2 separate regions of the Homo sapiens genome follow, and region 1 is linked to region 2. Evidence: fine-mapped expression QTL. A gene starts in region 2. The other region holds a variant in brackets. All regions are shown on one strand. Distances are between the middles of the regions.

Evidence for each region. PIP is the estimated chance that this variant, and not a neighbour inherited with it, causes the effect.
Region 1: its variant is fine-mapped to the expression of CASP8AP2 in whole blood (TOPMed, PIP above 0.99).

The regions. Positions count from the first base shown.
Region 1 is chr6:89,801,761-89,804,671 of GRCh38, reverse strand. MDN1 (midasin AAA ATPase 1) reads left to right here. Exons shown (of 102, transcript NM_014611.3): 2 at 1,118-1,344. Among named protein-coding and RNA genes, the nearest start is that of MDN1, 17 kb to the left of the region's middle. RefSeq lists an enhancer at 2,716-2,911. The variant A/G (reference allele first, on the strand shown) is at 1,615.
Region 2 is chr6:89,828,744-89,831,654 of GRCh38, reverse strand. CASP8AP2 (caspase 8 associated protein 2) reads right to left here and starts at 1,775. Exons shown (of 10, transcript NM_012115.4): 1 at 1,549-1,775. RefSeq lists an enhancer at 2,086-2,275 and a silencer at 2,376-2,425.

The sequences.
Region 1 (2,911 bases), 27 kb after region 2:
GAGGCTGATGCCTTGATCAGCTTGATAGGGATATCCTCATTCACTCCCAGGAATTAATTTTTTACCTCTGTCCTTTCCTGAAGAGTTGGAAGTTTTGTCTACTAACTGCAGAATTCATTTTTTTCTTCAAGAGTTAAAGGAGCTGGGGGAATTTTGGGGTTTTGAATTCCCTGGAGATTGTTGAAACCCCAGCACATAGATTATTTTTCAGATAAGTCGTGTAGCTTTTAAATGGAATCCAGGTATTAGTCCCTGTACCTCAAACTCCAGTGTACTGAAACTTATTTGTAACAGCCTTTATATTAAATTAACTCTGATCCTCCATTGCAAAAAATTTCCACGATATTTTATAATAGAATCTCACTTATGAAGTCTGGAAATTGGACATTTTAGTTCCAACCCAGGACTCGTCTCTGCTTTTCTACAGCAGTGCAAATGAATATTATTTACATAAATATTTTGGGCCAGGCATGGTGGCTCACGCCTGTAATCCCAGCACTTTGTGAGGCTGAGGCTGTTGGATCACCTCTGGCCAGGAGTTCGAGACCAGCCTAGCCAACATGGTGAAACCCTGTCTCTACTAAAACAAAACAAATCAAAACAAAAATTAGCCTGGTGTGGTGGTGGGTGCCTGTAATCCCAGCTACTCATGGGAGGCTGAGGCATGAGAATCGCTTGAACCTGGGATGTTGCAGTGAGCCAAAATCGTGCCACTGCACTCCAGCCTGGGAGATGGAGCAGGACTCTGTCTCCAAAAAAAAAAAAAAAAAAAAAAAGAAAAGAAAAGAAAAGGCCGGGCGCGGTGGCTCACGCCTGTAATCTCAGCACTTTGGGAGGCTGAGGCGGGCGGATCACGAGGTCAGGAGATCGAGACCATCCTGGCTAACATGGTGAAACCCCGTCTCTACTAAAAATATAAAAAATTAGCCGGGTATGGTGGCGGGCGCCTGTAGTCCCAGCTACTTGGGCGGCTCGGGCAGGAGAATGGCATGAACCCGGGAGGTGGAGCTTGCAGTGAGCTGAGATTGCACCACTGCACTTGCTCCTGGGCGACAGAGCGAGACTGTGTCTCAAAAAAAAAAAAAAAGTGAAAGATGTTTTGTTTTGCCTTTCTCAGGTGTGGACACCTCAAGATCGCCAGTGTGTCCTGAGTACCTTAGCACAGTTGCTTTTGGATAAGGACTGTACTGTGCTGGTTGGTCGCCAGCTTCGCCCTCTCCTTTTGGATTTGCTGGAAAGGAATGCCGAAGCCATTAAAGCTGGAGGCCAAATCAACCATGATCTGCATGAACGGCTATGTGTGTCGATGAGCAAACTCATTGGTAACCATCCTGATGTCCTCCCGTGAGTAGCAATTTTATTATTCGCATTTCTCCTTGAGGTGATAGAACCTGCTGTCTCCTGGGATGTAAGGGAGTCTGAGCTGAGAAGGTAAAACGGAAATACAGAAAGGAGAGAGATAAATAGTATTGTTTTATAAAAAGAGTCACAGCAGAATCCATTTATCCAGCTCAGTTCAGTGAGCATTTACTAGGTTTCTCTTAAATCTTGGCCATCAGAACAGACCTGGAAAGATGGCCAGGATATGTCCCCAGTGCTCTCAAGGATTGTATC[A/G]TGTGGCAAGACATGCATATACAGCGGAGTAAATGAGGTTTAACTGAGGCTCTTACAGCATCCACCTCTAATGGGAAAGATTCCTTGCTTGTTAGAGCAGCTGAAGGAGTGGATTAGAAGAGCTATAGTATCCCTTCCAAATTCTATAAATCTATCTGAATTAGTATACTAAGAGCTGTGTTAGAGCTGGATTTTAATGTGACTTTTAAAGAGATAGTAAAATATAGTTTTGAGGAATAATCAAAAGAGACAGCAAAACTGAGTGTCAGGGGTTTTTAAATTGAAAAGATTTTTAAAACTTTCACTGTAAAAATGATTAATATTCTGTGTACCAATAGGACATTTCTTTCTTCTCTTCTTTTTTTTTTGTGAGATGGAGTCCCACTCTATCACCAGGCTAGAGTGCAGTGGCATGACCTCTGCTCACTGCAACCTCTGCCTCCCTCCTGGGTTCAACTGATTCTCCTGCCTCAGCCTCCTGAGTAGCTGGGACTACAGGCGCGCACACCACCACGCCCAGCTAATTTTTGTATTTTTAGTAGAGACGGGGTTTCACCATGTTGGCCAGGATGGTCTCAATCTCTTGACCTCGTGATCTGCCCGCCTCGACCTCCCAAAGTGTTGGGATTACAGGCGTGAGCCACTGTGCCCGGCCAACAGAACATTTCTTATATCCAGTGTTTTATTTATTAGTCTTCATCAATGCAATAAATACACTTTGGCTTTCTTGGAAGTATGATATCTAGTCTGGTCCTTTAATGAGGAAATAGGAAATGAAGACTTGGGGGAAAACACTGTTGGTCTGAGCTTTTCTAAAAGGGGTTGAGAAAAAAATGGACCTGGTTTAATGGAACTAGAAAATATACAGCCAAGTAAAGATCGGGACTCTGAGAACGTTCCTGGCTTTCTCTATTCTGATATGTCAGTTAGGTATCAAAGTTCTGTCTCATAAAAAATTATCCAGTTTTTTCCTTGCTTTCTCTTCACCTTGATTAAACTTGTGCTCCCAAATCCCCTCAGCTATAGCTTTGGAGACAGTTTCAGAAAGTTAGAATTACACGTTATGTGTTGATTATTTTCTTTTTTTTTTTTCTTTTTGAAGCAGTCTCACTCTGTTGCCCAGGCTGGAGTGCAGTGGCACGATCTCACCTTACTGCAACCTCTTTCTCCTGGGTTCAAGTGATTCTCATGCCTTAGCCTCCTGAGTAGCTGGGACTACAGATGCACATCACTACACCTGGCTAATTCTTTTTTTTTTTTTTCTGAGACAGGGTCTGACTTTGTCGCCCAGTCTGGA
Region 2 (2,911 bases):
AAAAAAAAAAGTTTGTAAGCAGATTTACTCATGCATAATCTTTTCTGGGACAATTCCAATGGATTCAGATGTGAAAGCAAAGTAGACAGGAGAAGGATCACATAGCCTTTCGTTATAGGCAGTCTGAAGGAAGTTTTCTTTTTAAAATTGAGAGAATGTGGCTGGGCGGGGTGGCTCACACTTGTAATCCCAGTACTTTGGGAGGCTGAGGGCAGTCTGATCACTTGAGCCTAGGAGTTCGAGACCAGCCTGGGAAACATGGCAAAACCCAGTCTCTACAAAATACAAAAATTAGCCAGGCATGCTGGTGCACACCTGTAGTTCCAGCTACTTGGAAGGCTGAGGTGGGAGGATTGCTTGAGCACAGGAGGTCAAACCTGTAGTAAGCCGAGATCTTGCCATTGCACTCCAGCCTGGGCTATAGTCTCAAAAAAAAAGGAAAAAAGAAAAAGAAAAATCATTACGAAACTGAGAATGTGTCCTTAATGTAGACGCTAAAAGACAAAAAATAAAATTTAGAGAAAAACACAAGCATTTGTAGAGAAAAACAGGAAAAAGCCAGAGAAGACAGTGTATTTTTACACTCATGGGAAAGGCTAATACAGCAAGACCCCAGAAGAAGAGGTAAGGGGCAAATACTAACAAAAGCTATCATATACGGCACATTTACTATGTTCCAGGCACTAACCTAAATGATCTAAATACATTATTCACTTAGTTTAAATCCTCCCCAGAGTTCTATGAGGTCCATATTATTCTTTTCCCCATTTTACAGATGAGGAAAACACAGACGATCAAGAAATTTGCACAAGGCAACCACCTGGTAAGTGGCAGAGCTGAAATTAGACCCCAGGTCTGTCTGTAAAGCAAGATGGCCAAAATCAAGAATATTCAATACAATATAAATGTTTTTGGAAAGAAGGCCATCTCTTGTAAAACGGAACGCCAGGAAAAGATAATTGGAGGGCATAGCGGGGATAGGAAGGGAGATGGGAGAATCCCTGCCATGAAAGCCTCTGTCCCCCTCCAGTCAAAGAGGCGCTGAGGGAGATGGGGGGGAAAGGCCTTGAGGAGAGGCGAAAGGTTTGCTGCTGGAGGTGTGGAGAATGGAAAAAGACCAAGGAAGAGTCGAAGAGTCAAAGACAACTTGATGCCTGAAGCACAAATGCTCAGCTCCTACGAATCCTACATTCACATCTGAGTTAGGGCCTACTATGTGCTAGGAATGAATCTAGGCGCTGTAGAAATGAAAAACTTATTTAGGCATGTTGGTTTGATGCCTAAATAAACATTTCAGAAACAATCAACATCAATGATCACCTGACACTCCAGGAAACCCATTTCTCCAAAGAACTCCATCCGAAAGATTTTAAGAGTATATTCCAAGGAGAGACTGGATGGTGGGGGGGAGGGGCAGGACGAGAGGCCGAAGGGACAATTCCTGGGCGCGCCCACCCATAGTCCCCGCCCAGACCCTCTCGAAGGACCACAGAGGGACGCAGGGTGCAAGCCCTGAAGCTGCACCGGGGGCGGAGGGAACGTGGCTACCTGCGGCCAGACGTCAGGCGCGGCCCTTCCCCGACCTACTTGGCCGCTCCAGATGGACTCCCTCCGACTCTCTGGTTTCCCAGGGGCAGCCGACCTCCACTCGGGGGACTACCGCGCCATGCAGCCTCTTCCTTAGCAGTCCCTCACGGACCGGGCCCCTACGACAACTTACCCGCCCTGCCCGGCCCAAGACAACCCGGTTCCTTTCTGCCCACCGAGGTCTCCCTGGCATCTCCACCAATACCAGAGCGCTATCAGGGTATGGAGGCGGGACTGAGTGCCTACGGCCAATCATATCAGACGCAAAGCACGTCGCAGCGCCCACAACTAGTTCCCGCCTTTGGAAGGGAAAAAAAAAAACACGGTTGGCGCCAAACTCCAGTAATCTTCCTAGGGCTTTAAGAGAGAGGGGCGGGGTGTAAGGTGGCGGGGAAGGCGATGGGGCGGGGCTTCAATAGGAAGGGGCTGACCTGAGTGGAGGTAGGGGCGTGGCCTGAGAGAAGCTTTTTAGTGAAAGACAGGAAGCCTTGAGAGGTCTGTCATTTATTTAATACTTTATCTTAAAATTCTGCTGTCAGCTGCGTGCGAGACAAAGTGCTGGGCTCGATTACGATGAATAAATTTGTTCCCTGCCCTCAGACGCGTTCCTGGATGATAGGCAGACAAACAACTTAGCTTCGGATGTTGGGAGCCTTAAGGAGGGGATACTAGTCTAGCGGGGCAGGAGAGAGAAGAGCTTTTTACAGGGTGGAATACCTGACTTGCCTTATAGAACCTGTAGGAATGGGGGGTGCCGGTAGGTCTAGCCTCAGGAGCTCAGCCTGAGCATTGATAGGTGCGAAAATAAGGCCACCTTCCTCGGCTACTTATAGTCTGCCTATATTCATCCCTACCCATTTCCTCGTTTGTCCACTTAGCTTTTTTTTTTCTTTTTGCTTTCAGACAGGGTATCGCTTTGTCGCTCAGGCTGGAGCGCAGTGGAGCGATTTCGGCTCCCTGCAACCTCCACCTCCAAGGCTCGAGAGATCCTCCCACCTCTGCCTCCAGAGTAGCTGGGACCATAGACGCGAGCGACCACCACCCCTGGCTGTTTTGTTTCGTTTTGTTTCTGAGATGGAGTTTCACTCTTGTTGCCCAGGCTGGAGTGCAATGGCGCGATCTCGACCCACTACAACCTCCGCCTCCGGGGTTCAAGTGATTCTCCTGCCTCAGTCTCCCGAGTAGCTGGGATTGCAGGCATGTGTTACCACGCCAACCTAATTTTTGTATTTTTAGTAGAGACAGGGTTTCGCCATGTTGACCAGGCTGGTCTTGAACTCCTGTCCTCAGGTGATCTGCCCAGCTTGGCCTCCCAAAGTGCTGG